3 separate regions of the Homo sapiens genome follow, and all the other regions are linked to region 1. Evidence: fine-mapped expression QTL. A gene starts in region 1. Each other region holds a variant in brackets. All regions are shown on one strand. Distances are from middle to middle.

Region 1 (10,854 bases):
TTACTCACAAGAGATCTGAGAGTGGCGTGTGAGTATTTCCCTTAGAACCAGAGACCCTACGCACACACTGTTGGTTTTGTACACTAGAACATTGCTTTAAAAAACAACAATTAATAGGCCGGGCGCGGTGGCTCATGCCTGTAATCCCAGCACTTTGGGAAGCCAAGGTGGATCTCTTGAGCCCAGGAGACCAGTCTGGGCAATACAGTGAGACCCCATCTCATTAAATAAATAAATAAATTGAAAAACAAAAAACAACAATAATAAAAGGCAAGCTTATTCTGTTTAATGCAAAGAACATGCCCTCCTGGTGATGCATTCAATCACCAACTCTTAAAAACATAACTTGATGTTTTGATCTTTTTAAAATTTTTTAATTTTTTAGGTTTTTAAAAAATTATTTCAACTTTTATTTTAGATCCGGGGGTACATATGAAAGTTTGTTACCTGGATAATTTTTTTTAAGGGTAATTGTTGGCAAGGGTTCATCTATTAATTGTGAGGGTCATGATTTTAATGTGTGGCCCACACAGAAAGGGTGCTACAAATACACTTCATATGCATTTTCCCTAGATACAGGGCATGAGCACTCTTAGCAGAGACAAGTAGAATCTGATATTAGGGGGAGTGTTAATAAAAAATATTCTTAATATTTTGAAGGGGTTGTGGCAGTGGAACACTGAGCTGCTTATTTTCATTCTGGCCCCTTGTTCTGATATTTCCCCTTTTTGATCATTCTTCCTCCATGTCTCCTACACATTTCCAGGCCCTTCTGTTTTTCCTGCCATCATAACTGTGCATCTGGACCACTGCAAAGAGACTTCAAGGTACCTCATCTGCTGTGTCAGCCCCTCTGACTGTCCTGCTGGCCACTGCCTGTTCCTCTTCCCGGAGTGGAGCCTTGATCCTGTCATTCCCTTTTCTAAAGAGCCCCCACGGCTTCCATGGCTTCCAGCACACAGTCCATGCTCTCAGCCTGCTACCCAGCCTCCTTTCCCTGTCTTCCCCTCCACTTTTCTCCTTGTAAGCTCCATGTTGCAGCAAAATCAAATGACTGTTCTCTGGGTGCACCCGCAGAATTCCATGCCTCCGTGTCTTCACTCACAAAGTTCCCCTCTCAACCTGACTCAGCTCTATGGCACCTCTTCTGGAAAATCTTTCCCCTTTGACTTCCCTAAGCTGGAACTAATTTTTACTTCCTCTCAACCATCACAATTCATCTGTATAGATATATTTATTTGAAATCATATTAGAGACCACATCATATTCATCTTTGTATCTATGGGTAGACAAAGAAATAGATGCTGTGATAAATTTCTGTTTCCAGATGCCCAGGGGAATAACACTGGAAAACTAAACATCACTCTTCACTGAACCAGTGTGTCTCAAAGTGTTTTCCAAAAGCCACACCAGAGCTCAGGTGGAGCTCTGAGGTCCTCTGAGGCCCAGGGCTTGCTGCCTTCTTCCCACAAGAGCACAGCCAACACAGTACACAGAACACTCTCTCGACACAGCCTCCGCCACTCCCCTCACCTCAGGGAATTGTCCACTCTGAGTTCAGAACTTTCCCAGAGTTACAATCATACCCTGACAGAGAACCAAATGCACATGATATATAAGACATTTAAACTCAATCCTGAAGAGACTAATTTCTTCCCCAGAGTAAATCTCTAATGAAGAAGAAAAAAGATAGCTATTGCAGAGGACACAGGTTCTTTCTCCCCAAATACATTTTTCTGAAAGTCACTGAACTCTGTCAGAACCAACCTCTACAGAGTTACACTGATAAAAAATGGCACTGACATAATATTTAACTGTTGCTTCCAAACTCAGTTATCAAGTGTTTCATAAATTTGACTAACTCATTAAAAATAAAAAATGTAGGAAGACAGTTTGGTCTGGTGGAGGGCTGTTTTGGAAGTCCAAGCCAGTCTCTCCACCTCACTGAGTGTTCTTGGATTAGTCCTTAACTTCTGTATGCCTCAGTTCCCGCCTCTGTAAAATTAGGATAATATTAGTACCCACCTCATAAGACTGAATAAGACTGAATGGATAATGTCTGTGAAACACTTAGCACAGAGCCTGCACTTAATAAGAACTAAACAATTATAGCAATGATAATAATAGCTATGACAATGAAACTACTGAGAACAGAGGCTCTGTTTATGGAAAGAGGTAGATTAGTTGGTACTTAAACACTAAGATATTCAGACTAGCTTCTCTTTGGGAAAGAACAGAAGCAGTTTATACCAGTCCCCTATGTAAGTGTTAGATGTTATGTAAAGACTATTGCAAACAGCACTAAAAAGGCCAAGAATGGCTGGACAAGAGTGCACGCACAGGTACGGTTTACTGCATGTGCACACACACACTCCTGGCACTGTGCAAGTTAGAGCCTGAGATGCTTCTAGGGGCTTTTAAAGATTCTGTGCTGCTCTAATTGTTTAGTTAGCTACAACTGAGTGACCATGTGTCCCAGATTGCCCCAGACATTCAAGGCTTAAGCTACCTGCCCCAGCATCATTATTAATAGTGTGCCCTCTCATTCTCAAGGGGGTTCTGATTTTGGACAATAATGTACATAATTACCCTATAAAACAAAACCATCCCTGTTTATATGAACTTCCCTGTTTTCGAATCCAGTGGATGTTCTCAAAAAACAATACTGCCATTTCTAAAGCTCTTGGTCACAGTCTGCAAAGGAGCCTGAGGACTATGGACAACTGGACATATGTTTGTAAACAGCTTCAAAGGGGAATGGATGTGGTTTAACATGGAGAACAGTACCAGCAATTAAGGGTTTGTATTTAATTTTTACAAGTAAAAGTAAACGTTGAAGAAAGAGAGCAAGCCCTAACAATCTGAGATCATTTTTCCTTTATCTTTCACAACATGGAGGCACAAGAAGTCAACAACTTTTAACTTCTCAGAAGGCTCCCTGTGGATCAACTCAATCAATGTATCTGGGCCTCACTCCAGTAAGCCCCAACATTGGCTTTATTTATTAGAGAGATAAATAGCTCTGTGAGTTCACAACATGGTGAAAATTTTCTTAACAAAAACCACAGTCTTTAATTGGCTTCGAAGTTAGATGAAGAAATAAGTTTTAATATTGGCATTACATTGGATACTTTTCAAGAGTTCAGAAATATTAGTCTGCTTAATCTCCCCTTAAGATCTCAGAAGCACTGCAAAGGGAGTTATGTTTATGAAAACATTAAAACTGATTTTTCCCTAGTGTAACAATAACCATGTATCCTTATGCATTTGTAGTGTCGCCACTTTTTTTCTTTATCCTTCGTCAGAACTTGTGTTTATACAAATCAGACAGAAACCAGATTCAACCAACAGCTAAAAATTATTTACTCACATGCTTAGTTTAAAACATTCTGGTATCATACCACACCACACTGAAAAACATCACGACGTACTGTATGGAGTGGAACCAAATAAATACGCTAAAGAGTATTTTCCAGTATTCGCTGTTACAAAATCATAACATCCTATGATACAAACAACGAGATTGTATAACGTCCCCACATCGTTTTTTCAGAACTAACAAAAAAAAAAAAAAAAAGGTGGAGAAACTCAGCAAAACAAAGTGGCGAGAAAAGTCGGGGGAGGGGCGGTAGAAGAGAAGGGGCGGAGAAACACGACACTGAGGCGGTGATATCACCCACAGCCAACGGCATGGAATTCAGAAAGTTAAGTGTCACCCAGCAATCTCGGTGCGGACTCGCGGCGCGCCTGCACAGCGTGGCGGCTGCATCCCAGCCAAGCAGGAAGGGGGAGGGGGAGGCCTGACTGAGTTCGCTCGGGGGCAGCTGAGGGGAGGGCTGCCCGCCTCCCGGACGGCGCACGTTCGAGTCCCGGGTCGGGAGACTTGTCCGTCGCCCGACAATGATTTCATCTTTTCGGAAGAGCTGCCGCCTGGGCCGCGGCTGCCACGTGCCTGGTCTGGCCCCGTGCGCTGCGCCGGGGGACCTACCCGGACGGGGCCGCGGCCGCCGCGGGGCGCAGAGGCAGCAGAAGGGAAGGGCTGGCGGCCGGGAGGGGATCGGGGTGGCCAAAACTGGGCTAGGGGATTGCTCCGCGGAGTCCGCCGGCCTCAAGGGGCTGCCCTGCGGAGTGCACCCACCCTCCGCGCCCAAAGGCGGAAAGGCCAGAGCGCGGGGCAGGTTTCGCAACTCCGAGGGTGGATGCAGGCTGTGGCCGGGCGGGATGGAGCGGCCGTGCGTTTCCAGCGCCCCCGGCCTGGCGGAGCCCCATTCTCGGCCTGCGCCCCGCCGCGCAGTGCGCGCTCCCGGCGGCGTGACCGTGGCTGTCGGGCCCCCGCCCGAGCCGGGCAACCGGCCACCCGTGTAGGGGACAGTGGCGGCCGCGGGGCCCGGCGCCGCGCTGTTCGCAGCCCGCCACTCCTTCCGCGCTCCAGGCCCTCTGCGCCTCCTCCCCCGGCCCCGGAGAAATGCTTGTACCTTCCACCGCCTCCTCCACCATCTCGTCGTCGCTATCCATGGCGGCTGGGGACACTGCCCAGCTCGGGGCTGCGCGGCTGCCTCCCGTCCCTCTGGGTGCTCCCGGCGGCTGAGCGAGCTCTGGGGCTCGCGAGTTTGGAGGAGGAGGAGGAAGAGGAGGAGCAGTCGGGGCTGGCTCGCACTGCCTCCCCCTACAGCCCTTTCAATTCCTTGGCCTTCAGCTGCTGCGGCAGCAGCCGTCGTCCCCCCTCCCTTCGCCCACTTGCCCCTCGCCTCGGAGGCTCCGGTGTGCCGCCTTGGCCGCTGCCGCTGCTGCAACTTTCTCCTGTAATACCCTCTCTTTGTTATCGAGCAGCTGATCCGCTGACATCACCCAGCGCCGGTGCGCTCCCTCCCTCGCTGATTGACAGTTCCCTGTCCCTTTCCAGAAGTAAGGCTCCTTAAAACGAAAGGCGCTCCGGGGCCGCGCGTATTCCGCGTCCCAGCCAACCCGCCTCCGGCCCGTCAGCGTTTCTCTTTTGCTTAGGTGCGGCTTGGCGCGCCCCGAGCGCTCAACGCGGTCCTGGGCGCTGCGGGCTTCTCGCGGACACTTGGACCGCCCGTAGGGGCTCCGAGCTCCCGACCTCCCGTTGTGCCGGGAGCAACTTGAAAGTCCGTCGTGCACTGTCCGTGTTCCCTCGAGACAACCTCCAAAGTGCCAGGGAAGCTAAGGAAGCGTTTCTGACGCTCTGGCGCCTGGACTTCCTCTCACCCTCGCCCCCACATCACCCCGTCGCCACCGGGAGCTGCACGAGTGCGACACGCAAGGGAGCGCAGGTGTCCTCGCGGTCCCGCATCACATCCGCAAGCCGATTTCCCCAGCTCGGGGGCTGTTATCTGGCCCGGATTCCGCAGGATGGCGGGTCCACCCCAGCGCCCCCACTCCCCGCCCTCCTTCGGGTCGCCAGGCCCTCGGGTGATTCAGAAATTCATCAAATCCAAATGGCAGCGGGCTCTCTGTCAGGCAGGAAACAAGCCGCACCGAAGGCTCGGCAGGTTCCTCCTTGCTGCTGTGGTAATGGAAAAGGAGCCGCCGAGTGGAGCTAACGAGGAAGGAAGGACCCTCCGTCTGGCGCGCCTCTTTCCCGCGCCTCCCGCCCTGTACGTGTGATGTCCCCAGCTGTCTCTCTGTTTCTCCAAGTGCCAACCACTTCACAGATTCAGGCGTCCTCAAGTGGAGAAAACCATTGGGCACCCGGCTTCCGGCCCGGCCACTTAGTGTCGTTATGGCGCTGCCTCTTACAGGTGGCGGTAAAGGGCGACTGTAAATAGCCGATTAAACAGATGTAAATGTACACAATGTACCGTGGAATTACCGGGTGCCGCTCTGGGCACCCGCCAAGAACAGCTACTGCATGGAGGGGAGGAGGGAGCAAAAAAAAAGTAATTCCATTTTGTTTTCTGATCAATGAATGAGACTTTGGGGATTTCAAAATACTTCCAGCGCCCAGGAGACTACTCCTTGCTTTTGGCTCTGTGCTTAAATGGTAGATATTTTTGTCAAGTATTGCCGGCTTGTTTCTTAAAGTCAGCTTTTCCTCTATGAAAAAGAGAACAATGCTAGGGACATTAGCCCCACACACTTCCAGGAATTTCAGCCCCTTTGACTGTTTTAGAAAGGGGAGGGTCCTGGACCAGAAGTTAGGAGACTTGAGTCCTGGTGCTGCTCACCTGCAGAGGTGTCTTGGGAGCCCAGCCAGCCAGCCTGAATTCCTCCAGATTAGAGGCTTAGTCTACATTGACATAAGGTCCTTGGGGCTTAGGCTAGAGCACTCTGAGGTTCTTTGGCTCAAGCAAGACACCCTCTAGCTTAGTCTATACCTCTCTGAAGTCTCTTGGCTTAGGTTTGACCTCCTTAAAGTCCTCCAGTGCAGATACTGGGAGTCCAAGGCTAAACAGAGAAGGTGTACGTGCAGTGGAAGATGAAAGAGCCACTTTAGGTTACATCATTTTCAAACATGAACCACAGAAACAGGATTTTATATCTGATTTTTAAAAAGCCATCATTTACTGAGCTCGGTCACTCACTGGTTTTGAATTATATGATATTTTTTCTCATTTAACCTTTTTACATATCACCCCCTCCCTTGCATATTATACTGGTGCACTAAAACATACCAGATACTCGTCTTCCCCAGTTTCCAGTTGATTTTCAGGGTGAAAAACAATGCTGAAAGCTGAAGGAAGCAGCAAAAAGACTTTATTCTCTTACTCAAAGGCAGTGAGGCAGGGCTGGGAGGCTGGAAGAAATCTCTCAAGACGTACAGAAGACACAGTTTCATGGTGGGTGGGTACGTGTGGGAGTGAAGGAGAGGGGAGGAATCATGTTGCAAGTGTCCAACTGTCCCCTTGGTGCTGTGAGGTTTTCCCAGCCTGTACTAAGCACCCAAACTGTCAAGCGCTCCCTTTCTACCTACTACCTTGAGAACACCTGAAACCCTGCCTACGGCACCCCCCAACCCCGGCCCCCGCCGTCGGTGAAGCAGGGGTCCTCTGGACCTACAAGAGGCAGGGACAGGAAGGGAGCAGGGTCTTTCTAGCAAAGTCAGTAGTGATGCGGGGTCAAACTACAGAGAACCTTCACCAGATCTGCACATGAGGCAGGCAGCAGCAGGGACACAGTCCCATCCCTCTTCCCCCACCATTCATTCCTGCTGGCTCTGGGCCCAAAGCTGGGGCAAAATGTTTTTATGACTCTCTTAAGATCCACTTGTATCTTTACAAATCATGTTGTGTATGTTTCGAGTCTCCTTCTCTAGACGGACTGATTCTTATTTATGGTCCTAGAACACAACACAGTGCCTGGTACAGAATGTGGGTTAAGCATTGTCAGCAATGATTTTGCAGATAGGAATATTCTGTTTTATATAAACAGTGCTGAGGCTTTCTCACAGACTGGATTCTCCTCCTATGTTTTGGCAAAGTGCTTTGTTTCAGTTCAAATCTGAAGAGCATTTTTGAGTTGTTCTACTTTCCCACATCGACTGGCCCCAAATCTGCTTCCATCGCATTCTTTCCCACAGTTTTCTTCATTGAGAGCTGATTTCATAAACTCTCTTTCTACTTGGCTTTCCACCAGTTTCCCCTGTCGTACTCTGTCCCCACCAATGTGGTCATGGGCTAGAAAATCAATAAAACTCTTAATCACAAACAATGTGCAGCAGCAACAGCAGCAGCAGAAGTAGTGTGGCTCAGCTCCTAACTTGGCAGATCCCAGTGAGACAGAACAAGCTCTACCAGGGAGGAACGGGACCGCACAGGACATCCAACATCTAGGCTGGGTGAGACTTGCTTTCATGTTCACACTGAGAGTGACTTTTTTTTCCCTGTCTTTGGTCTTGAATCAGGAGGAGGGGTGACTTTTCTAAGCTGCTCTGGCTTAGTTTCCATTGCCTCCAAGGCTATATTCCTTCTCTTCATACCCAGCTTGGGAAACATAATTCCCTCTTCCATTGCAGCAAGCAGTCAAAATACTGAGTTAATTTTATTCATTCTACCACCCCTGTCTTTCCCTGGAGAAGGCTGGTGCTTACATACAAGACTGATATAACTTTTGCAATAAATATATTTTTACAAGCTTCTTGTATTTTATGCACCTTCCTACATTTAGGGGAAACAATTCTGTCAATTCGCTGCTATGCATGCTAAGCGAATTGTGAAACAAGTAGTGAATGTGGAACTTATGTGGGATTCACTACTGTTGGCTGTTACTGACTCCTCATCCTGCCCGCTGGCAGGGAGTGGAGGGGCCCAAGCAGTCTTCTGGGTCTCCATGTATTTGGGAGGGAGGAGCCTCTGAGACCTCAGCGGTAGGAAGTCGCATCAGAGCCTCTCCAGAAGCCCTGGTGGCTTTATGGTTGCTGGCCTGGCTCTGGTTTCCATCACTTGCTTACACCGCCAGCAGGATGACAAGGATAAAATTAGTGAAAGACCTTTTAAATAATCATCAAGTCTCGTTTTGGCACTGCTCACTCCTTCACAAGATTTTTTCCCACCAAATTAGCCAGTTTGATTGAGTTTTTGCTTTGTCTGTTTTGGTTCCACCAAGAACTAGCCAAGCAACTGGGCAATTCAGTTCTGCGGGGGCCGGGGGGGGGGCCTTCGTTTTCCCATCTGTAAATGAAGAGTTGGGCTACATAAATTCGAAGCTCAAACCTTCTCTGTCCACCTTTTCTGGAGAAAAGGTAAATAGAGCCTGAGAAGCCCCAGGAAAAGGCACATAAAAAGGAAATGGGAAGAAGCCAGGGCAACTCCAACAAACTGAATACTCAAGTCCTCTCACGTTAATGGCTCTATCTGGGCAGGCAGGTGAGGGGAGAACCTTTATCTTGACTCTAGGGAGGGAAGCATGGAAGTTTTAGGAGAACCAAGGTTCCTGGGTTCTGAATCACTGAGTCACTAATCAAGTGGCTAACTGTGTTAGTGACAACTGCAGAAGCTGGAGGGAGGGGCTGGGAGAGGAGCAGCGAGGAGGAGACGGGTGGGGGAGGAGATGGGGATGAAAGGGAAGCGTTTGCAGCTTGTGGAGCACTGGGAAGAGCAGGGACATCAAGGGCACCAAATAAAGGTCCAGGGAGCAAAGAAAGAAATGGAGAAAATTCATTCTGCTGGAAATAGACATGAGTGCAGTCAGGAAGAAGACTTACAGATTCAGGGTGACCTGATTTGATTACAGCAACAGGAAGTGCAAGAGAGAGAGGGCAGAATAACCTGACCTAAGGAAGTGAATTAAATAATAGAGAAGACACCACAGTTGCCATGGTATTAAAATACCTCATGCCACATTAAGCTTCCTCTTTCTCTTTTGCTTGATTCTTGTTTTTGCAACATGTTAATGTTGCAATGACATGTTAATGTCATTGCAGGGTATCCAGTAAACTAAATTTAGACTTTCTGGGGCGGGGAGGGGAGGGAAGATGCAGCCCAGATCTCCCTGTTTGGGTCGACTCTGGGCCAATATTGTTCCTTCACAGAGTTCTTGGGGTTTTTTGCATTATGGGATATGAAAACTCTTATGTCAGGCTTGGGCCTAGTGAAGCTGCTGAGTGAAATGATTGAAAAAAAAAAAATGAGGCCAGGCACGGTGGGTCACGCCTGTAATTCCAGCGCTTTGGGAGACAGAGGCAGGTGGATCACCTGAGGTCAGGAGTTCATGACCAGCCTGGCCAACATGGTGAAACCCTGTCTCTACTAAAAATACAAAAATTACAAAAATACAAAAACTGGTGGTGCATGCCTGTAGTCCCAGCTACTTGGGAGGCTGAGGAAGGAGAATCACTTGAACCTGGGAGGCGGAGGCTGCAATGAGCCGAGATGGCATCACTGCACTGCACTCCAGCCTGGGCCACGGAGTGAGACTCCATCTCAAAAAAACAAACAACAACAAAAAAAACCCTCACACACACACACACACACACAAAGAAAAATTGGAAATAGTTTTCAAAGGGGCATCTGTTTTAGAAATTACTTTAGAAAAACAATAGGATTGCAGAAACTTGAAAAATAAAGACAAACCGCCACCAAAACCAAATGTGTTTTCATAGATATTATTTTCTCTAATTGTTTTTGAAAAATTACTTTACTAGGCTAAAATTAAGATTATTGAGTCCTGCAATTGGTCCTCTGCAAAAGTAGACATTGCAGAGGGCAGGTACATGGTATACTCTTTTGACACTACAATATCCAGGATGGGCAGAGGAGTATTTCCAGCTGACCTATTTACCACAAATGTCATAACATTCATCAAGGGTCAGCTCTTGACCTTCCTCAAGTGGACTCACATTAACTAGACCCCGAGAGACTGAGATGTATGCCTGAATTATGATGGACAGATCAGAATACTCACACTGTCAGGGCAAAAGATCTCTCTATATAAATAAATGCACTTGAGAAGACAAATTCCATCCAAAAGTTTGCTTAGTTATCTGGAGTAGAATGAAGGACATTAGTTGTGTGGTCCACAAGACAAATACTCTGATACAGTGTTCTGAAAGAATGAGGCTGCCCACCCATCCCACTCACCTCTGCTTAGATGGGCCCTATGGCTTCTGAGGCTTCAAGCTTCTTTCTCCGTGCTCTAGTTTCTCCAAACCTGATTCTCCACACAGCGTCCTATACAGCCCATTAGGCAGATTTACACTTTCTAAGTCATAATGACATTCTCTATCTTCCTGGCATTACAGCCAAGTCACTTTAATGGGAATTTGAGGTAATCCTCAAACTTCTCAGTCACAAATTGAGTCACTCTCTTGGTTTATGCCCACTGAATTCTAGTCAAAACCATTGAGTGTGCAGATTTTGGTAGTCAAACTTTCTGAGAGCAACCTGGTTCTCAAGTTCT
Region 2 (10,854 bases), 48 kb before region 1:
TATATATATGGTTGTTGAAAAGATTAAATGAATAATCTAAAACACTTAAAACGGCCTGATAAAACTCTAGATAAATATATCTTTGTAAACCCCCCTCTACAGCCCCCCTGATAAATTCTCTAAACTGATTTGAATTATTTTTAAAAATCCATTTATTTAATTTATTTGAAGAGACTAACCTCCCTTCTTCTCTGAGGAAAATAAGAAAACAAAACTCATGATGCAGATGAGGCAGACACTGTGAGTGGTCAACCCAACTATCATTTCCCTTTCCTACTTGCTGGGAGAGCCCCAAACTGGTTCAGGCCACACAGCCATATGCTTCACTCAGATAATCATAGTGCCCCTGTAGCCATTGCCAGTGATTGGCTGAGTTTCCTCAGTGATAGAGGCCATAGAAGAGACTTTCCTTTTCATCTATTGGATGGGGCCAAATTGGCTGTGATGGCTGGAACCTGGGCAGCAATGTTGTGGCTGTGAGGGAGCTAGCCCCTGAAGGCAAAGCAGACAAGCTGAGAAAGGCAGAGTGGAAAGATGGGAAGAACTTGGTGGAGCTGCTGAATTAACTGTAGGGCCACTCAGCACTTCTTGTTATGTGAGATAGTAAACCTTCTTTATTACTTAGGCCATATTGAGTTGAGCTTTGATGTTTCTTGAAGCTGGAAGCATTCTGATACTTACAGAAGTAAAAATTTGGTAGCAATCTAGATGGATCCATTAATCTTTTTCCGTGTACATTATAAGAAGTGAAGCTCTAAATTCAAAACCCTGGCTTTTGGTTTTTGTAAATAAACAAAACTTAAGGAAAAACACATTTATCGAGCAAACCACTATGTCGTGAGGGAATTACCATGATCTATCTGTCTATCTGTCTATCTATCTATCTATCTGCAAGGTAACAGTCATTTTCTGAAATACTTTTGGAGCAGAAACCCCTTTTCTGTTTTTCCTTTTTTTTTCAGCTTCAAGAGGAGGAATGGAATTTCTTCTTCTTCCTCTTATTTTTCAACTAGAGGCTTCTTATTGAACAATCCCAAATCAGTCAGATGCTGAATTGAAACTAAATGAAACTACAGCATAAAGTCCTTCGATAGCTGTTACCTAGTTCTAGAGATGACTGCTGAAACAATTTCACATTTAATATAAACTAGCAGTCTGAATGATTCCAAACATTTAAACCCAAAGGCAGATATTGGTAACCATCCCATTAGTATAGCTGGGATGGTTACTAATTTGGTCTAACATAATTTTGTCTTAATTTTCACATTACCTCATTCTACAACATTTGGGCCCAAATCAATCATCTTAACCCATGAAAGTTGCCCAATCTTTCACTTTCAAGGTTAGCTTCTTAAGCTTCCCTCAGTCTGTATTAAATTTTTAATCCTGTATTCCCCTTTCCCACAAGGAAGAAGAATATTAATATTGTGATTTGACCCATGCGTGTTAGAGGGTGAAGCCTTGCCTGAAAGATCTAGCATGTGAATGTGTCTGTGCAGGTGGAAAAGCTGATCCAACATCAGTTTGGACCCAGTCATCTCACTCGTTTCTGTTTCCTTCCTTCCATGGAAGGAAGTGTGATAAAATCAAGGATTGGGCAACTGAGGGAGGTAAAATAAAGCAGGAGATCTCATGGCCTGCTTCAGTTTGAGGCCTAACTGTGCCTCGTGTAGCCCTGCCAAACTTCCTAGAATTCACTTCTTTGGGGTCCTGGGCAGAAGGCCCAGCTAATAATGAGGTACTATGTTGACTCCTTTTGTCACTGGCTTTTGTGCTTTACAAATGTTGACTGGCTGGGCACGGTGACTCATGCCTGTAATCCCAGCACTTTGGGAGGCCAAGGCAGGCAGATCACTTGAGGTCAGGAGTTCAAGACCAGCCTCGCCAACATGGTGAAACCCCGTCTTTACTAAAAATACAAAAATGAGCTGAGTGTGGTGGTAAGCGCCTGTAATCCCAGCTACTTGGGAGGCTGAGGCAGGAGAGTCGCTTGAATCCCGGAGGTGGAGGCTGCAGTGAGCCAAGATTGCACCACTGCACTCCAGCCTGGGTGACAGAGTGAGACTTCATCTCAGATTAAAAAAAAAACGGAAATGTTGACTGTGATTAGGGCAGGAATAAGGGATTGCCAGGGTTCTCAGCTCAGACTCATCCTCAGACTGCCAAAATCTACCACAACGTCTAACAAAATTTCTATATTTTCTTTAAATCATGAATTGAAGTTTCCTTTCAGCTATTTGCCCTGATCATCTCATTTGCATTCCATACCCTTACCATGTATGTATTCAATCCGACACTTTCTGTTGGTGTGGCTAATCCTTCTGGATTTATGGGTGTATGTGGAATCATATCAAATCCTCCGCTCTTACTAGAATGCTCTGAAAATGATAAATGGCTAATAATATTTTAAAACAACTTAAAATGTAAAGTTCACTTAGTAATTTAAATATACAGGTAGACACATTATAAGAAAACCATTATTGCTTTTCTAACCTAGATGACCAAAGGAAGACAATGACAGATGATTGTATATTTTGTTTAATACTTGCATTGTTTCTATAGCGCAATTATAGCAATCTTTAAATTTACTTTCATTACAAATATTTGTCAAGTTTTGTTTCAGAAACATTTTTCCTACTCTCTTGCATCATGCACCCAGACACACTACAAAAAACTCATTCATAACACAGTAAGGGCAAACATTATTCATGTAAACATCTTTCATTAATTTCCCATAATTTAAAAAAATCATAGAATTATAGATATTGAATAAGGCTCATAGTTTTAGTTCAAATTCCACAAGAGACCAAAGATGCTCGTTAACCGTGATGGGGTTAACTTTTGGTTGCAATAAATGCTGAAAGCATACCCCTGGCTTCTACTTCTTCAACATACCTCACAACCTAATAAATGTATTTCAGGATAAAGAGAGAACATAGAACACCCAGGAGGAAACTTTTGAAGAAGGGAGCTCAGAATCATGGACATAATTTTCCTATGTGATAAGCAGGTATTACGTAGTCCCTGTAGCTTCCCAATACATGAATCAAGGTTAATTATCATAAACCAAAATGTAACCAAGTAGATATGTTGATACATTGGCATGTGTGTTCGTATTGCTACTATACACAGTGAAAATTTATCCTAATATGTATCATTTCATTATATCCAGGACCAAAGTGGAAAAAAAACCCCACTCAAGTTGAATATCATCATAAAGGAGTTTTTGTTTGTTTGTTTTTTCAATAACATAAGAGTCAGGAGAGTTGGGAGGTATGTCCTAGGGATGTGATTGACTCTTGACATTTAACAACTTTGAACAACTGTGTGTAAAGTCACAGACAGAGGAAGCAAGGATTTTTGTTATCGGAGGACGTCTCTCTCTCTGGTTGGAAGTTTGGTGCTTGGGTGCATAGTCTTCCAGAGCTGAGACAGGAAATGTACTGTGCTGAGAAATGGGCCCCTTGCCAGATGCTCCCCTCTCCTTCCTCTCTGCGAGGCAGAAGTCAGAAGGTAGAGATTGCTGGCAAAACTGTGAAGTCCCACCCTGGGGTCTCAACCCCAACTCCACTGAGGGCAGCCTCCCTGACGTGTGTGACTAGGCAGTAAGGGTGGCGGTTGATGGCGGCCGGGAAACCGAGTTTCGAGGTTCACATGGCCAAGTCTGGCTTCTGATTCTGCTGCCCTGCAAAGAAATTGTGCTCCAGATAACTGCACCGGTGTCTCTAATGCCTCTGATTCACTCTCAGGCCCCTCAAAGGCCTGCAGTGATATCACTAAAAGGTGAACACACCTCCATTAGCACCTAACTTCCACCAGGAAGCGGCTGAGGCACTGGGGAAGCCTACGAGCTCTCTCCACGTCAGGTGCAACAACGCCGAGGAAGTTGCTGAGAGTCAGAGTTATTGTAGGCTTTTGATTTTTAAAAATCAAAATTGATCTGCATTACATCTCAATAGACTCAGATAATTCTCACCAAAATTTTTGTAATGTGTTTAAGTAGCACTGGAATAATTCAACTTCATTTAAATATATTCATTCTATCATGAAAATATTTCATACAAACATCTATTTACATACAAACACATTAAAATTTGTGAAAAGGGTTCCCACCCCTGTGGTTGTATGGCTTGAAATAGTTTCATTGCTTTGAATATGTACGCACACATTTGGCAAAAGAAAACTATTACAATTTAGTATTTTTAAAATTAAAAAAAGTGACAACGAGTTTCCAAATTCCTGAAGGGAAAGATAAAAGAAAAACAATAATAATCTATCAAGGTACCCCAAGTAGATGTAAATTTGATATACTTTGTGAACCTTTGATCTGTGGCAAATAAACATTACAACTGTCAGTCTTGCAACATAGTTTTGCTTGTTTTTCTAAAACAAAAGATATCTGGATTCTAAGTCACTACTCTTAAGACAGAAGCTTGAGGCAACTGTTTTAAAACAAAGCAAAACAGAAAATGATACCTCTACCTTCTTGGAAGATTTTAAATGCATGTTGCAGTGAGTGATTTAAATTTTTATATATTAAATGAAATTTACGAAAAGTGCCACATACTGTCTCCTGGAGAAGACAACCCTTTAATTCACTGTTCACAATTAATGCAATTTTAATAGTTATATTTAAATGTTAAAAATTGTTACATTTGGCCTCATTGGCCTTTCTGGGTGGGTCGTTGGTGATAAGGAAATAGTTTTTCGAGTGTGAAGAACCCCCATAGGGCAAATAGGTTTAACTACAGTCCTAGACAGGTTCAAAGAGCTCTTGGAAAACTAATTTCCTTCTTAGTGTCTCAGGTAGATCAAGGATGAAGCAAGTTAAAATAAGAATAGGTACTACAAGACTCAAGAACTCCTCACTGCTTTCTTTTTGATCCCATCATTCCTTTGTGTCGGAAATTCAGTCTTTCCAGTTGTTTTTGTTAGTCCATTCAAATGTCCATTTGGGGACATGCTCCTACAGGTTAGTTCCTATTCCTAACTCTAACACAAGATAATATTTCATCACAGAAAAGATGCTAAGGGAAGATCTGGTCATGCAGGAGTTGGACTGAGACAGCTCTGAGTGAATCTCCTTGAGATTACAGTGTCGCACACACACATAGGCTCCCGCTGTTTTTCAGGAGAGCATAAAGTTATTTCTTTATTCCCCACCACATGGAATCTTCCACGTCTGCTGTGATTCTGATGCGATGAAATGACCAGATGCAGCGGCTTCCTGACACATTTCCTTCCCCAGCAGATGTAAAGTAGAAAAATACATTCTGAGTATTCTTTTCCACTTGCGTTTAGGTTCAAACGGGAAACAAACCCTTCCGTCCTCAGCTGTTAATTCCTTATAGAACCTCCACTCCCTTGACTTCTTTCCCTACCTACAGAACTCAGTGAATCTCAAGCCTTACTCCGATTCCAACCTGCCACAGAGCCTTACATTTGGGAGTATGTGTGTGTGTGAGGGGAGGGGTGGGGAAGACAGAGCCAGAGACATAAGCAAACAGAGAGGCACACACAGAGGAAAAGCCAGATGAGCAGAGTCCCAAAGACATGCACAGAGCCAGAGAGACTCAAGAAAGGTCAGTGCAGGGGACTTGGAACAGGGAACAGGAGAGGGCAGCTGGGGCTGCTGTTACCCAGGATGCCCAGGCGTTCTCACATATGCAGAGAGAAGAGGAAAGAGAGCCGGCCAGAGAAAGAAGAGCTGGAAGACACAGAGAGTATGAAGAGAGTTGGGAGGAAGACATGGTGAGGCTCAGCGTGGATGCATTGCTTCCTCTGATTTGCGTGGAGGTCACAGACACACTGCTGAGTTTTAAGCTCAGAGTGTTACCATTCAATATCTCATCTGAAGAACTGATTAGCAGACTAATCACTACTTACAACTCTTCAATTCCTTCTATCCAATGTTGAAAAAAATTCCATTTGAATGGGATAATTAGAGTAGCCCCC[A/C]CTTAGGACGTAAATTGTACCCCACTGCAGCCAGGACCAGAATGCTATCACTCTCAGGAATGAAATCATTCAGAGCATAGCTGCATCGGGGGCATGACCAGCACTATCCTCTCCCTGACCGTATTCCCTGACCTGGCTGCACAACCCACTTGATCGAGGTTAATGCAAGCCATCTTTCTCCTGAAGACAGTCACTCCCTTTGGGCACATTTAAATTAAAGCACCTATCAGAATGCAAGTCCAGAGGCCCTGGCCCATCCGTCACAGTGTATAGAACGGTCTCTTTCTACAGAGTAAGAGTGACCCTATCCTGGTGCCTTTAAATCTAAAAACTATTCAGTTCCTTTGGTGGGCAATCTTCCTGGAAGCACTGACAACTTCCTCTCATGGGTGAACCATTGGCTTAAGCTTTCAAGCAGGGATCCAACTGGATCTCCCTGAAACCACTGCCACCTAGCTGCAAAGCATGCAACCGGGTGCTCTAGGAAGCCTGGTGTTGCAAAGAAGGGAAGGGCAACTCTGTCAATGTGCCCAAGGGCCACCTGAAATGAAAGTCATGAGCAGCCTGGGATTAAGCACTTTTGTTGTAGTCTTCATAAAGCAATGTGCAACTGACAAGAAATAGCAAACTTCCTTCTGCCTATGTCCTCACTCTTCTTCCACTGAAGCCTTCTCTCATCAGCTGGAGCTCACTATCTGCTACAGCTTGGAAGGCCTTCGCTTTCCAGACCAAACTGACTCAGGTGACAGGAATCACAGCTGACAGCTACAGATCAGCACAACAGCTGCTCTCCAGTCCTTCCAGCCGCTGCATCGAGGTGTCTAAAAGAGACAAAGCTATGGCATGTGGTGAGGGTGCTTATAAAAAACAAAACTCTCAGGATTCATTCAGAGCAATCCCAGTGATGTTACAGATCTAATTAGCTAAACTAAAAAAACAGGGGTTTTCTCCTTATTTCTGCAGTTGTGATTACACATGGCTGGCAAAATGGCTGAAATGCTATTGATAGTGTTGCTTTTAAACTATACAGGTGTTCAGTCTTAGTTTACAATGTTTTGAAGCAGGTAAGTGCTTTGAAATTACAATGATGAAGAGTTTTAGCATCAAGGTTTGATTTGTACCTAGTAATCAGTGTGTCTGCCTTAGTAGTACTGACTAAAAAAATTTTTTTTTGAATTCTGTTAGAATTCAAATTTGCTGTTTGACTTTTGAATTCAATGCACTGTGCCACAAGCCTGACCGCGCTATGTTATGTACATTTAATGTGTACTCAAGGAGGAAAAAATTACTAGCACTACTGAAAATATTGCAAAATTGCCATAGTTACCGCTTAGAGATACTAGTTTTCTTCTCTTCTTTCTTAAAGTATATATTACAACTCTTCCATAACTTAATGCAAACAAAGTAAATTCATTTCTTCTCACATCTTAAAGCAAAGATATCTTTGTTTACATGCGAGAATAATATTCTATAATAATACCCTGGCCCTATGAGCCAGTACTTTATATTAGGACATAATAATAAAATGATGATATAGAAAGAACCAGAGAGACCTACACACTGCTATTGATGCAAAAATCCATTTGGAAGTTTTCTCTTGTAAAGGGTATCTAAGAAAGAGAATAGGGCTGAGGGGTGAAATGACTTTAGAAGTGGGCTCCTATTTACTAAGAAAAAAACCAAAGCCATTCTATTGCAAGATACAGATCAAAGGTTAAAAGGCAAATTATACTACATTTAGAGAATAAAGATGTAGTAATTGTCAACCCTTAATACGGCACATATGCAAGTGTGCTAACACAATTTGCACTGGCCATAGGAAAAAAGCACTATGGAAAAACCACTGACTAAAAATGACTGAAAAACCCCGTTTCCCTGTTTCAGTCTAATCATTTGGCATCTCCGAATGTGGTACAGATTTAGACTTGAACCACCAAAGAACATCACGCTGTCTTATGTCAAATGCTCGACAATACCTCTCAGTAGGACGTTGTTGCAAGGCTAGCTAATTTTAAATCTGGTATGAGTAATACAGTCAAACCTAGTTAGTATGCGAGAAAGTCGTTGCTAACGCATGGTGAGAGGATGTGACGTCACAGCATGAGCAGTCCCTGGTTGTCCCATTGTCAGATAAACGTAGTGCATAGATCCAAGTTTCTATTCCAGGTCTCTGAACCCCAAAGCCAGGCCTTTCACTTTTGCTGGGTGGCCTGGAAGGCCTTCAGCTCCACCTGGTACCACTCAGGGGCTTCAGGCCCACTCTTCCCGGGGGGGCTGTGGTCATAGCCATAGGCAACGGTGAGCTCTTCATCGGCCTCCACTGCTCTCAGGGTGCGGATGCATTTGATGGGCCCAAAACGGGGGTGGACAAACCTAAACATCAAGATGCACACAGTCATTCCCGGGCCAGACCAGGAGGTTGGAAGCAAAGGCTAGGGAGGGGCTGATACAGGAATCACCCCCAGGCACTCTTCCCTGGGCACACCTGGTATGTGCCCAAAGTGTGGTCACCCAGCATCAGTTTCACCCGAGAGCTTATTAGACATGGAGCATCTCGGCCCCATCCCAGACCTGCTGGATTGCAATCTGCATTTTAGCGACACCCCCAGGCGATCCACTGGTGTATTAAAGTTTGAAAAGCACTGCTCTGTTTTTTAAAGCATATTTGGCACCTTGCATTTATAAACCAACAATCATGATCAACAACAAAAATCTGTCGTTAATGAGAAATCAGATCCAGTGCAGCCCGCCAGCATTTGAGCTTGTCTGGCCAGCAGCATCAGATTACGTGGCTGTATCTCAGGGAGAAGGCTTCACCAGAGTGCTTTTGGAGTTGTAAGAAAGAGCCCTGTGGATTTTCAAAGGCAAAAACTCTGTATTCCACCCTATACATAGAGAGGAAATATTATTTTCTAGCATGAAAGTAGATGAAGATTTCTTCCCAAGAGGGAAGTCTAGACCTCTCTGCCAACCTGTTTATTTAGTATTTCCCTGTGAAGCATCCTATGAAGAGAGCAGTATCTCCTTCCTACAACAAGTCCTCTTGGGACCAGAAACGAGGTTAACACTATGGCTATGTTCATTTGCCGAAGGCTCCCAATCCTGTTCATCTGCACAGCTCCCTGCAGAACAGGCAGATAAATAAGCAATAAATAGACTTAGCTCACCTAACAGCTGCTGAAATGGATACATGTAAGGCATGGCCAGAAGAAATCAGCTTTATTTTTATATGCATCTGGTCAAATCAATCTCATTCATTTAGAGTCTTTTTTTTTCTTATTCTTTTTTTTTTTTTTTTTTTTTTTGAGACAGAGTCTTGCTCTGTTGCCCAGGCTGAAGTGCAGTGGCATGATCTTGGCTCACTGCAACTTCCACCTTCCAGGTTCCAGCAATTCTCATGTCTCAGCCTCCCAAGCAGCTGGGATTACAGGTGTGTGCTACCATGGCCAGAAGATTTTTTGTATTTTTAGTACAGACAGGGTTTTGCTATGTTGGCCAGCCTGGTCTTGAACTCCTGGCCTCAAGTGATTGGCCCACCTTGGCCTTCTAAAGTGCTGGGATTACAGGTGTGAGCCACTGTGCCCAGTTTATAGTCATATTTTGCACAAAGGGTTGGTGAGACAGCAAAGGAGAAGGTTCCAGGCCCTAAGTTAGATTGGTGCTTGGCGGCTGGACATGGTGGCTCACCTCTGTAATCCCAGCACTTTGGGAGGCTGAGGGGGGTGGATCACTTGAGGTCAGGAGTTGGAGACCAGCCTGGCCAATGTGGTGAAACCCCATCTCTACTAAAAATGCAAAAATTAGCTGGGTGTGGTGGCGCACACCTGTAATCCCAGCTACTTGGGAGGCTGAAGCACGAGAATCGCTTGGACCCAAGAGGTGGAGATTGCAGTGAGCTGAGATTGCTCCACTGCACTCCAGCCTGGATGACAGAGTGAGACTTTGTCTCAAAAAAAAAAAAAAAGAAAAAAAAGATTGGTGCTTGGGGCATGATAGTAAGTACTTGGCTGGTTCCTTCTATCAGTGGTGGAGGAATGGGCATGTCTATAGCTTTGGGACTTCTTTTATGTGGAGTAAAAAGGAACAACCTTTACCTCACACCAAAGGGGCCTCTATGTCCACCCTCTTGGGTATCATATCATGTTTTGTGGAAAGGACACTTGGTGTCAGAAGACTTTGGTGTGAGTCCTGATTCAACACATTTTTACTGCATCCTCTTGGAAAGTTCACCTTATATCTCTGAATCTCACTTTCCTCATCTGTAAAATCATGATAATACTAGTAATAGTTATCCCATAGGGTCTTTGTCATGACAAAATGGGGTCACATATAGAAAGCACCTTATACAGTGCCTGGCACAAAGTAGGATTCAACTAATATTGGTTACTGCCTGCCTGTGAGCATGCATGTGTGAACACAAAAGTGAACAGTTATCAGCCTGTACTCCACCACAAAGAGATGCGTGGACTGTGGATTCAGGAATTCCTTATGAAAATCACAACTCTTTGCTTAAATTAAAATATTTCACTTGGCTGGGTGCAGTGGCCCATGCCTGTATTCCCACCACTTTGGGAGGCTGAGGCGGATAGATCACCTGAGCTCGGGAGTTCAAGACTAGCCTGGGCAACATGGTGAAACCCCACCTCTACCAAAAATACAAAAAATTAGCCAGGGGTGGTGGTGTGCACCTGTTGGTACCAGCTACTTGGGAGGCTAAGGTGGGAGGATCGCTCGAGACTGGGAGGCAGAGGTTGCAGTGAGCTGACATTATGCCACTGCACTCCAGTTTGGATGACAGAGAACCCATCTCAGAAAAAAAAAATTAAAGTAAATTAACATATTTCACTAAAAAAAATGTTCCTGAAATACAGGTTGGTTAACCTCTGGTACACTGAAAAA
Region 3 (10,854 bases), 36 kb before region 1:
TTTGGCTTTGGGAAGAACACGTTCAGGGGTCATGTAAAAACTACTAAAGTGTTTGTAGGGCTACCATGTAAAAGAGAGTCTGACATGGGACACAGGAAAAAAAGGGAGACAATTAGAGCCAAGGGCTGAATATTTCAGGGAAACCCATTTGGGCTTATTATAAAGAACTTTCTAGGCCGGGGGCGGTGGCTCACACCTGTAATCCTAGCACTTTGGGAGGCTGAGGCGGGTGGATCCCCTGAGGTCAGGAGTTCAAGACCAGCCTGGCCAACATGGTGAAACCCCCATCTCTACAAAAATACAACAATTAGCCATGCATAATGGCAGGTGCCTGTAATCCCAGCTATTCGGGAGGCTGAGGTGGGAGAATTGCTTGAACCTGGGAGGCAGAGGTTGCAGTGAGCCGAGATCTCACCATTGCACTCCAGCTTGGGAGACTGAGCGAGACTCTGTCTCAAAAAAAAAAAAAAAAAAAAAACAATGAAAAAGAATTTTCTAGTCATTGGAGCCCAGAAGCTAATTTTGTAATGTCTATTTCATTTGTCTATTTGTCTGGACCTTTGTGGATAATGTAAGCTCCACACCAATGGAGGTTTCCAAGAAGAGGTTCAATGAGCAGATGGAAGAGAAGGCTCAAACTCTAAGAGGATTATTTGATTTTTTAAAAAAAAACAGCTTTGTTAATATATAATTTATATACAGAGTATAAATATATGTACTCCTTTATATATATTTACCTTTTGAAGTAGATAATTCAGTGGCCTTTCAACCACTGAATATCACAAATACATACAAAATTCGGCAACCATCACCATCATCTAATTTTAGAACACCCGCCTTAGAACATTTTAATCAGTCCAAAATGAGACCGCAGTGAGATCCCATACCCATTAGCACACACTCCTTATCACCCCTCCCCAGCCCTAGGGAACCACTAATCTACTTTCTATCTCTGTGGATTTCCTACATTTTGGACATTTCATATAAATGGAATCATACATCTTTCACTTAGCATAGTGTCTACAATTCTCATCCATGTTGTAGAATATGTCAGTACTTCATTCCTTTTTAGTATCAAATAATAGGGACTCTGATTTTATAGGTCTTTTCCAACGCTGAGATGTCATGCCCTAGGCTTAGGACTTTATTTTCCTTCTTTCTTTCACATCATAAAAGGGCTCCCGGCTGGGCGAGGTGGCTCACGCCTGTAATCCCAACACTTTGGGAGGCCGAGGCTGGTGGATCACCTGAGGTCAGAAGTTCGAGATTAGCCTGACTGACATGGTGAAAACCCATCTCTACTAAAAATACAAAATTTAGCTGGGTGCGGTGGCGCATGCCTGTAATCCCAGCTACTTGAGAGGCTGAGGCAGGAGAATCGCTTGAACCTGGGAGGCAGAGGTTGCGGTGAGCTGAGATCTCGCCATTGCACTCCAGCCTGGGCATCAAGAAGGAAAATCCATCTCAAAAAAAAAAAAAAAAAAAAAAAAAAAGGGCTCCTTCATCTTCTCCACTGTGCAGAGTAATTTAAATTTTTACTATTATTTCAAATAACACTATCTTTAATTGTCCAAAACGAGAAAACTGAAGGACAAGAAAAGCGGCTATAAAACAGCAACCCCTCGGTGTGGTATACTATTTCCATACCATTTCTCCTCTTCAAAGCACTTTCCATTTCTTAGATTGCCAAAGCCACAGAGTGAGGCTGTTTAGATTTTGAGTTTCAAGTCATAACCCTGAGGCCGATAGCAGAGGACCCATGGTCATTCAGATGAAGCAGCCTTTATCTGAGGCAGAATAACACTTTTTACTGCCCTCCTCCGTCTCAGGGCCCTGAGGCATAGATCCGCCCCAGCAGCTCTGGGTAATACTTACATATCGTAGATGCAGTTTGGAGTGAAGGAGTGATTTGCCTTGTGTCCCAAGGAGGCACAGTACTTGGATACGTGGTTATAGGGCTCAGGCACATCAATGACCGTTTCTTCATCAAGGGAGAGGGTGTTCCCATTAAGGGCCCAGTCCCTGCTGTCAACCTGCAGAAAACAAGAAAGCGAGCCTTAGAGAGGACCTTTCTCCCCAAAGGTCAAAGGACATCAGAGATATTAACTCATTTATCTTATTATTATTTTTGTTTTTGAGACAGGGTCTCACTCTGTCACCTAGGCTGGAGCGCAAGTAGCGTGATCTTGGCTCACCACAACCTCTGCCTCCCAGGTTCAAGCGACTCTTGTGCCTCAGCCTCCTGAGCAGCTGGAATTACAGGTGTGCACCACCATGCCTGGCTAGTTTTTGTATATTTTGTAGAGACGGGGTTTCACCATGTTGGCCAGGCTGGTCTCGAACTCCTGACCTCAGATGATCTGCCCACCTTGGCCTCCCAAAGTGTTGGGATTACAGGTGTAAGCCACCACACTCAGCCAAAACTTCAAGGTTTGAGCACTACAAAATGAAATAAAACAAAACAAAACAAGGCATGTCTCCACACACTGAGAGTGCAAATGACATGTGTGGTCAGTGCCAGGCAGCTCGACTTAACTATTTATTCATTTTTCCTTGTTCTATATGAAAAAAAAGGATTTAAAGTCCCTGATGAAAACACACACAAATATAACTGGATAGCTTGTATTAAAAGTAGATAAAGAAGAGGAGGCAAAAGAAAAAAAAACAAAGTAAGAACACAAATGGAACCAGAAATGTAAGGGATGCAAGAATGTACTCTAGGCAAGTCCTCCACCTTTGTTACAGGTGGGAAATCACTGTGACCAGGAGGCAGCCATCGATTACCAGCATGCCTTCTTATCTACAACAGGGGTTACTAACAGTGTAACAATCAGGCTTCTCTTCTCCAAACCACTCCTGATGAACTCACCCCAGGAGCTGGTGATGACAGCAGCCCAGCCTTTTGAAGCCAACAGGATGACATTTTCATACAAAACTGTTGACTCTCAAGGTATACCATTTCCCCCACTATTAAATTGTAATTGTGCTTTTATTCATATGTGATAGTCCCTCAACTGATGTTTACTAAGCGGTACCATGTGCCGGGCACTCTTCTAGGTGCAGGGGATACAGCAGTGATCAAAAGTGGAAAAAAGCCTCATGGACCTTAATATTCAAAACCAGTCATGTGATACTGATATGTGGCACTTGGTACCATCTACCTTAGGCTGCCATTAGTTGTGTATTTTTCTTATCTCCCCAACAGAATCTAAATTTCATTAGGGCAAGAAGGGTGTCACATTCATTTATACAATAGAGCATATTGAGGTTCAGCACAAAGCCAGATTCTGCAGTTTGAAATCCTACTTGAACTCTGCTATTTGCTGTATTTTTGACTTTAAGCAAGTTGTGTAATCTCTCTAGGCTTCCGTTTCCCTATCTGTAAAATGAGTAAGTAAATCATATATCAATATCCCAAAGTCACCCTTTGTATGCTGAATTTCTCTGGATTGCTGACAGAAGTCTGGCCTTTGCATGGGACGTAGTCTGACAGACCATAGTGCAGTTTGAATACGTCGCCCTCTTTTGCCTGTGCAACTGCTTTGAAAGTGTAATAACTTTATTATTATTTCACAGCATTTTCCCTCTTACTGTTCCACCGGAATAAATGCAAAGGTGAACATAAATGTGGAATATTAGCCATAAGCTTAAGGTCCCATACACGTAATATAAGTCAGACAAGGAAGGAGCGCATAAGCTGTGCTAAAAACATTGAACTTTTGCCCTTAGGCAGACACTTAGGGAAATTAACTGTAAAGTGAAGAAACAAAAACAGAAAACATATATGAAGCCTTTGACATATATCAAAGATTGTATCTTAAAGGTAAGAGGTGATTCAACTCTTTAACATTTTGTTTTTAATTTTTTTGACAAAAGAACTCTTCCTGACAAAATGTAGGATATAGTATAGCATGGCTTTTGCACAAGAAGATGTAAGGGGCCTTCCTATAAAGCACCCCACCCAAGGTCATGAGTTAGTTATTTACAGAGTCTGACTGGATCTCAATTTTTAAGACATTGGTACAGTCTAATATACCAATTACTGTCTTATTGATGGCATTACCCCACTCTCTATAAAATAGCTCTGGAACTTTTAAAAAAAATCGTATTAAGGCTTAAAATAAAGAGGATGAAAATGTCCAATCATTTTTACAAAAAAGCCAATCTGCTTCTTTAACTTTCTAGTGAGTACTAAGGTAAAGGGATTTTGTTTGAAGCAAAGCCCTTTAACCAACAAAGTTGATTTTCCACTGTCAGCCCCACTCACCTCTTGGTGTGTAATTCGAACTCCATTATAAAAAGACATAACAGTATTAGGTCCCACAGCTACCTTTGAAAAAAGTCCTTCTCCAGCACTGGAAATAAGAGATTCAGCAACATAAACCCTAAATTGAAAAAAGAGTTGAATAGTGACCTTTTCAGCTTAATATGTCATTCCTTACATCAACTGCCAAAATATCATTAAGGCTACTGATTCCAAAATGTCAATTCATAACCCAACTAAGAAGGGAGGGAGGAAGAAAAAGTTAAACCACAATATTTTGGCATTGGAAATTAAACAAACGGTAGTTATGTCTCTTTTAGGAGTGGTGTTTAAAATTTGCTTTCTAATATAGAAATTATCATTATATTTTCATAAAGATGCTCAGTGCTTGATATGAGGTATTTTTTGGAAGAATTTTATGTTTTTAGTTGATGACAATTTTCACTGCCTTACTGGACAAGTAAACATTTTTTCAAAGTTAATTAAAGCTATATCTAAGTTTGTCAGTGTTAGATGGGAGGGAAAGGAGGCTGTTTTAGTTAAGCCTCAAGATGTATCTTCTATATGCAACAGTGACAAACAATTAATAAGATATATCCAATAAGCATTTCCCAGCAAAAGGGTTCATAACAGGGGTCAGTTAACTATGGCCTGAGGGTCCAGTCTGGCTGCTGCTCATTTTTGTAAGTAAAGTTTTATTGGGACACAGCCATACCCATTTGCTTAGTATTGCCTATGACTGCTTTAGCTCTACAAAGGCAGAATTGAGTAGTTGCAACAGATATTATATGGCTTGCAAAGCCTAAAATATTTACTATGTGGCCCTTTACAGAAAAAGTTTGCCAACCACTGGTTTATAAGAAAACAGCTGGTCGGGCGTGGTAGCTGATGCCTGTAATGCCAGCACTTTGGGAGGCTGAGGCGGGTGGATTACCTGAGGTCAGGAGTTCAAGAGCACCCTGGCCAACATGGTGAAACCCCGTCTCTACTAAAAATACAAAAAATAGCTGGGTGTGGTGGCGGGTGCCTGTAATCCCAGTTACTCGGGAGGCTGAGGCAGGAGAATCACTTGAACCCAGGCGGTGGAGATTGCAGTGAGCTGAAATTGCACCATTGCACTCCAGTCTGGACGACAAGAGCAAGACTCTGTCTTAAAAAAAAAAAAGAAAAAAGCGCTCATAATTACGGAACTGGATTTAACCAGACGCTGGGATGGAATGACCCTACAGGAACTGATCATCTGTAATTTTAGTTACATGGCTCTTATGCTTATTCATGAACTGGAAGACTGATTTATTGCTTTCAACTCTTTATTTCTTCGCTGTGATAGAATTATATACATCCTGCCACTTTGCCACGTGACCTTGTAGTGCCTCCCTCAGGGTGGGTGGAGGATACATCCTGCCCTACTGACTTCTCGTTTGGCCATCTGATCTGCTTTGCTGGTAGAACATGGGCAGAAGTGGCTGCAGGCAAGTCTCAGGTGTGAAGGGCTGGGGCAAATTTCTGCTGGCCTCCTCCAGACTTTTCACTGTCTCCATTAGAAGAATATGCCCTAGGGGGCTGTTGCTCCCTGTTTCTCTTGTAAAGAAAACATGTGAAACAGACTTGAACCCAACTTGAAACCTGGAGTCCAGCCTAGGCCAGCTGAGCTTAGCTGATTCCAGTCAGAAGTGGCTGAACCTCAGCCAACCTATAGAACTATGGTGTAAAACAAAATGTTTGATTCTGTAAACCACTGAAAGTTCTGAGGGCATCATTATGCAGCCTCATCACAACAATAATAACAGAAAAGACTAACACGTATGGCTATGGTCTTGTGTTTCGGAGCTAACAAAGAAGCTAAACCCTTCCCTTTGTAACTGGGCCAGAGCCTCATGTCAAAAAAGAGTCCATTCATCATTGTGACATTGTGGGGTCAGCCCTGTCAGTTGAATGGAGGAAGAGGCCTATTTCTCAGATGGGAACAGAAACTGAATGGGAGGTAAGCCATGCTTACAAAACACGAGGCAAAGAGAAAACCAATTTCAGATAGTACGCTTATTCATAAACAGATCTGTTGCTAAGGAATAAGAAGAATCCCAGAGAGGGTACCAGAAAAAGCCACATCAAGACTCAAGAGCTAGAGTTTAGCCATCCTCATAAATAAGACATGAAGTAGAACAGGATGTGACCCTCTGGGAGTGGGCTTACAAACCAGAAACTTGTCATTTATAAGCTAGAATGTTTTTATGCCTCTTATACTTTCTTTGTTTCACTCTTGTCTTCTGTTTGTGAAAAAAGAAATTGTCTTGTGTTCCAGAACACCTCCGCTGGTCTAAGATGAAATGGAGGCATCCTGTGTGCACAGGCTAGAGCTTTAAAGAGCATGAAATGTTCCCCTAGAGGGCCAGCATGTGACTGCAGCACAGACCCTAAGAACGGGAATGCTCGGCCAGGACACAGCTGGCTGCCTGGCCCAGCTGCT[C/CT]TTTTTTTTTTTTTTTTTTTTTTTTTCTTTTTAGATGGAGTCTTGCTCTGTTGCTCAGGCTGGAGTGCAGTGGCATGATCTCGGCTCACTGTAACCTCTGCCTCCCAGGTTGAAGCAATTCTTGTGCCTCAGCCTCCCGAGTAGCTGGGATTACAGGTATACGCCATGACACCCAGCTAATTTTTGTATTTTTAGTAGAGATGGGGTTTCACCATGTTGGCCAGGCTGGTCTTGAACTCCTGACCTCAAGTGATCCGCCCGCCTTGGCCTCCCAAAATGCTGGGACTGCAGGCATGAGCCACCATGCCTGGCCTCAACTGCTCTTTCTACCTGGAGGTTTTACTCTAGGACAGACACACAAGCTGTTCTGTGATTTATGGGTGAGGAAACTCTCTTACAGGGTCAGATTCTACATAAGAATAAAAACACTCTTCCTCAGAATATAGAAATATTTATTTGAGGGTTGGCAAAGGAAAAGGACACTTTCATGAGGAGCTTGGTCTGAGCTGGAACCCAGCCTGGGCAGAGAGCCAAAGAGGTGCATAAGTTCCTACCACTAGGCTTATTTAACCTCACATAAACAGTGCAATTAAAACCCCAAGGAGGAAATTACCTTTCTGATTCATAAGGATCTGGAAGAAGAGCATTGGTAGAAATGCAAGATGAAGTCGACTTATCAAAGTGGTACACTGAATCTGAAAAGCAAACAAAAATACCAGTATAGGTGCAGAGTTAGGGAAGAGCATTTATAACACTTCTCTCTATTCATGGGACAACGAAGAGTTAAAAAACCAAAAATCTTAATCAAGTTATACCAACTAGAATGAAGTTCTTCAATTTAAATGGATACATTTTAGATTTACGCTTCAGTTTTATTTTCAGGCCTTCATGAACAGCCATCAGATGCATCTCTTAACATTCCAATTCACTCTTGAATTTTCCTTATTAAAATGACTTAAAGGATGCTTGGGAATCAATAAAATGCTTTGTCATGAAATTCTGAGATCTCTTGGCTCAGATCAAATTGGATGATGGTTTTAAATTTTTCTGGTGGTTTTCTTCATTACAGATACAGTCTACAGAATCCAACAACTGAACACTGGCAGTTGTCTCCTTCACTAAGAATAAAATTCTGCCTCACCAGAATTAAGGAGAACAGCACTGCTTTTGATAAAGCATTAACAAAGTAATCTCCTTTCTATTACGGTAGTTCAGAAGCCAATTAGTAATTTACTCTAGAAATCAAGGCACACAACCACCCTAGAAGGAACACTGGCTCTCTGTGAAGGATTAGCTTTAGAGAATCCTCACAGACAGCACTAAAGATAGATGCTCTGAAGACTGATAGGTAAAGAAACAAGATTTAGAATCAGAGGGCTTACTCCTGCAAAACAAATGATTATATACACTGAGGGAAAACTCATAATCCCATTAAGCAATTCTTCAGTAGTTACTAATGGTTACTAGGTCCTCTTTCTGTTTGTTTGTGAGTGGCTTTTTTTGTACAACCAAAACCCCAATGAATACCTGAAACTAAAAGTCAGAAACCAATCCAAATCAGTCAGTGTCCGCACAGAAACGGACCATTTGAGTGTTTCAAAAAGAATTCAGTTCAGGGAATTGGTCATACAGGGGATGGAATGCTGACAAGCCAGATGGAGCCGTGAAGAGCCCAGACACTGGCAAGAGCAGGAAGCTGCCACTGGAGGCCGGAGGGACAGAGGGCACAGTGCTGCTCCTGGAGCTCTGGAGCTGGGGTAGTTGGAACTAGCCTGGGCCTTCCTCATGGGAGATGGAATCAGGAGGTGATGGGGCCACTGCTGGAGATGCTGGTTGACACAGAGAGGGCTTCTTCCTGCTGCCTTCTCCTGCTTTGTCCCCAGCCAGCCAGTGGCCTCCCTTTGGCCAAACTCAGACAGAAGTCAGACACACAGGAGCCTGAAAAATGCAGGCTGCAAGGGGCAGCAGCCTCTTGCAATAATAGCGGGCAGTGAAAGAATGATGAATGGATTGGATCTGAGAGCAAAGTGGTAACAGACCACCAAGCAATCCACGAAAAGCATTTAAACCACCCTCCCCCACTTTTTTTTTCTTTTGAGACAGTCTTGCTCTGTCACTCAGGCTGGAGAGCAATGGCGTGATCTCAGCTCACTGCAACCTCTGCCTCCCGGGTTCAAGCGATTCTCCTGCCTCAGCCTCCCAAGCAGCTGGGATTACAGGTGCCTGTCACCATGCCTGGCTAATTTTTGTATTTTCAGTAGAGATGGGGTTTCGCCCTGTTGGCCAGGCTGGTCTTGAACTCCTGACCTCTAGTGATCCACCTGGCTCAGCCTCCCAAAGTGCGGGTATTACAGGCGTGAGCTGCTGTGCCCAGCCGTCACTTTTTATAAATAACCAAAATTGTGTGTGGAATGTATGTTCTATTGAGTGGAAATTTTCCTATGAATTCCATCTAGCTCCTTAGACTAAAATTTTTATGACAAATTTACTGAGTGCCAGCTACATGTACAACACTAGGGACTGTGTAGATACAATAAGGATTAACTTCTGTTGCTGCTTTCAGGGAGTGCACACTATCTCTTCCAATGCCTACTGTCTCTTCTTCTGCTGCCTTAGACATGCCCAGGCTGCAGGCACATCCTTTACTTTTACAGATTTTACACATCCTTTACTTTCCCTCCTTTCCTCTATAGTATGCTATGCCCTTTGACTAGAATTCATTTATTCAATGGACAAACATTCATTATAAAAAGTGAGTTAAGCCTTAAAGATGGAGTAGGAATTAGCCAAGGAAAGCAGTTACTATGTGGAGTAGGGCTGATCAGGTGAGAAGCAGTGGCATAGGTGAGAAACTCCACAGGAAGTAAGTAGAGAATTAGAAGTAGTTTGTGGTTACAAAAGCACACAGAGAAATGGAGAAGCTGGTGAGGCGACAGGTCAAGGAGTGTTTTATGTGAGATATTTGCATTAATTTCTCTCCTTCCCCAACCATTGGACGCTACAGTCACAGGACCCTGTACCCCCTAACCCACTGGCCAGTCAGCAGGTCAATAATTATAACTGGAAGGGGCAGAGGAGAGATACAAACATGGCAGAACATTAGACTAAAGATCGGTCTATAGGATCTTCAGAGTGCCAGAGCAGCCATGGTTCCTGGCCCTTTTGAGGCTCAAACTATTCAACATTTCAAAACACCTGAGGTCTGCAGGAATCTTGCCAATAAATCCCCCCTTTCTTTTCTGCGTTAAGTTAATTTGAAGTGAATGTTTATTTGCAACCAGAAGGTTTTTGTTGTTGTTGTTTGTTTTTGTTTGTTTGTTTGTTTGTTTTGAGACAGAGTCTCTGTGTCACCCAGGCTGGAATGCAGTGGTGCTATCTTGGCTCACTGCAACCTCCACTTCCCAGGTTCAAGCGGTTCTTGTGCCTCAGCCTCCTGAGTAGCTGGGACTGTAGGCACACTCTACCACACCCAGCTAAAGCAACCAGAAATTCTAAAAAAATAATAATTCCCTTTAGAATTCTCACTCTCAACAATTTTTTTTTTTTTTTTAAAGACAGGGTCTCACTCCTGTCGCCCAGACTGGAGTGCAGTGCACTCAGCTCACTGCAGCCCTGACTTCCTGAGCTCACGTGATCCTCCCACCTCAGTCTCCCAAGTAGCTGAGATTACAGACACATGCCACTATGCCCAGCTAATTTTTTTTTTTTTTTTTTGTATTTTTTAGGAGAGACAGGATCTTACCATGCTGCCTAGGCTGATCTTGAACTTCTGGGCTCAAGTGATCCACCTGGCTTAGCCTCCCAAAGTGCTAGGATTACAGCTGTGAGCCACCAGCCCTGGCCTACTGTTTCTTATTTATAGCAAGAAGAATGTAATAACAACTTTCATTACAGTGTTTTATGGTAGGTGCTAATATCCACATTTGGTAATGAGGAAACAGGTTCTGAAAAAATAAATAACTTGCCCAAGGATAATATAGTAAATGTTAGAGCTAGGTCTCAAATTAGGTGATTCTTAAGTTTAGGCACCTGCCACTAAAAATGCTGCTACTTCTGAAGTTTTAAAACTGGCATCACCAATTGGGATCCTCCCTTGTTTCGAGCCTCCTCATTTCTAAATATT

Alleles and levels. Positions count from the first base shown, and alleles are read on the strand shown. Sizes are in standard deviations (SD) of each study's normalised expression. Not every link is listed here.
For the expression in skeletal muscle of the gene that starts at base 4,597 in region 1, allele A in region 2 goes with a higher level than allele C (moderate effect, 0.54 SD a copy in GTEx).

The links.
Region 2: its variant is fine-mapped to the expression of SETD7 in skeletal muscle (GTEx, PIP 0.99).
Region 3: its variant is fine-mapped to the expression of SETD7 in whole blood (INTERVAL, PIP above 0.99).

What each region holds. Positions count from the first base shown.
Region 1 is chr4:139,551,623-139,562,476 of GRCh38, forward strand. It overlaps SETD7 (SET domain containing 7, histone lysine methyltransferase), which reads right to left and starts at 4,597. Exons shown (of 8, transcript NM_030648.4): 1 at 4,476-4,597. The coding sequence starts at 4,515. RefSeq lists silencers at 3,905-4,094, 4,225-4,394, 4,455-4,514, 4,735-4,844 and an enhancer at 5,585-5,754.
Region 2 is chr4:139,503,516-139,514,369 of GRCh38, forward strand. SETD7 (SET domain containing 7, histone lysine methyltransferase) reads right to left here. Exons shown (of 8, transcript NM_030648.4): 8 at 2,523-8,328. The coding sequence ends at 8,148. Among named protein-coding and RNA genes, the nearest start is that of SETD7, 47 kb to the right of the region's middle. RefSeq lists a silencer at 316-365. The variant A/C (reference allele first, on the strand shown) is at 5,956.
Region 3 is chr4:139,516,010-139,526,863 of GRCh38, forward strand. It overlaps SETD7 (SET domain containing 7, histone lysine methyltransferase), which reads right to left. Exons shown (of 8, transcript NM_030648.4): 5 at 7,345-7,426; 6 at 4,268-4,385; 7 at 1,876-2,033. Among named protein-coding and RNA genes, the nearest start is that of SETD7, 35 kb to the right of the region's middle. The variant C/CT (reference allele first, on the strand shown) is at 6,732.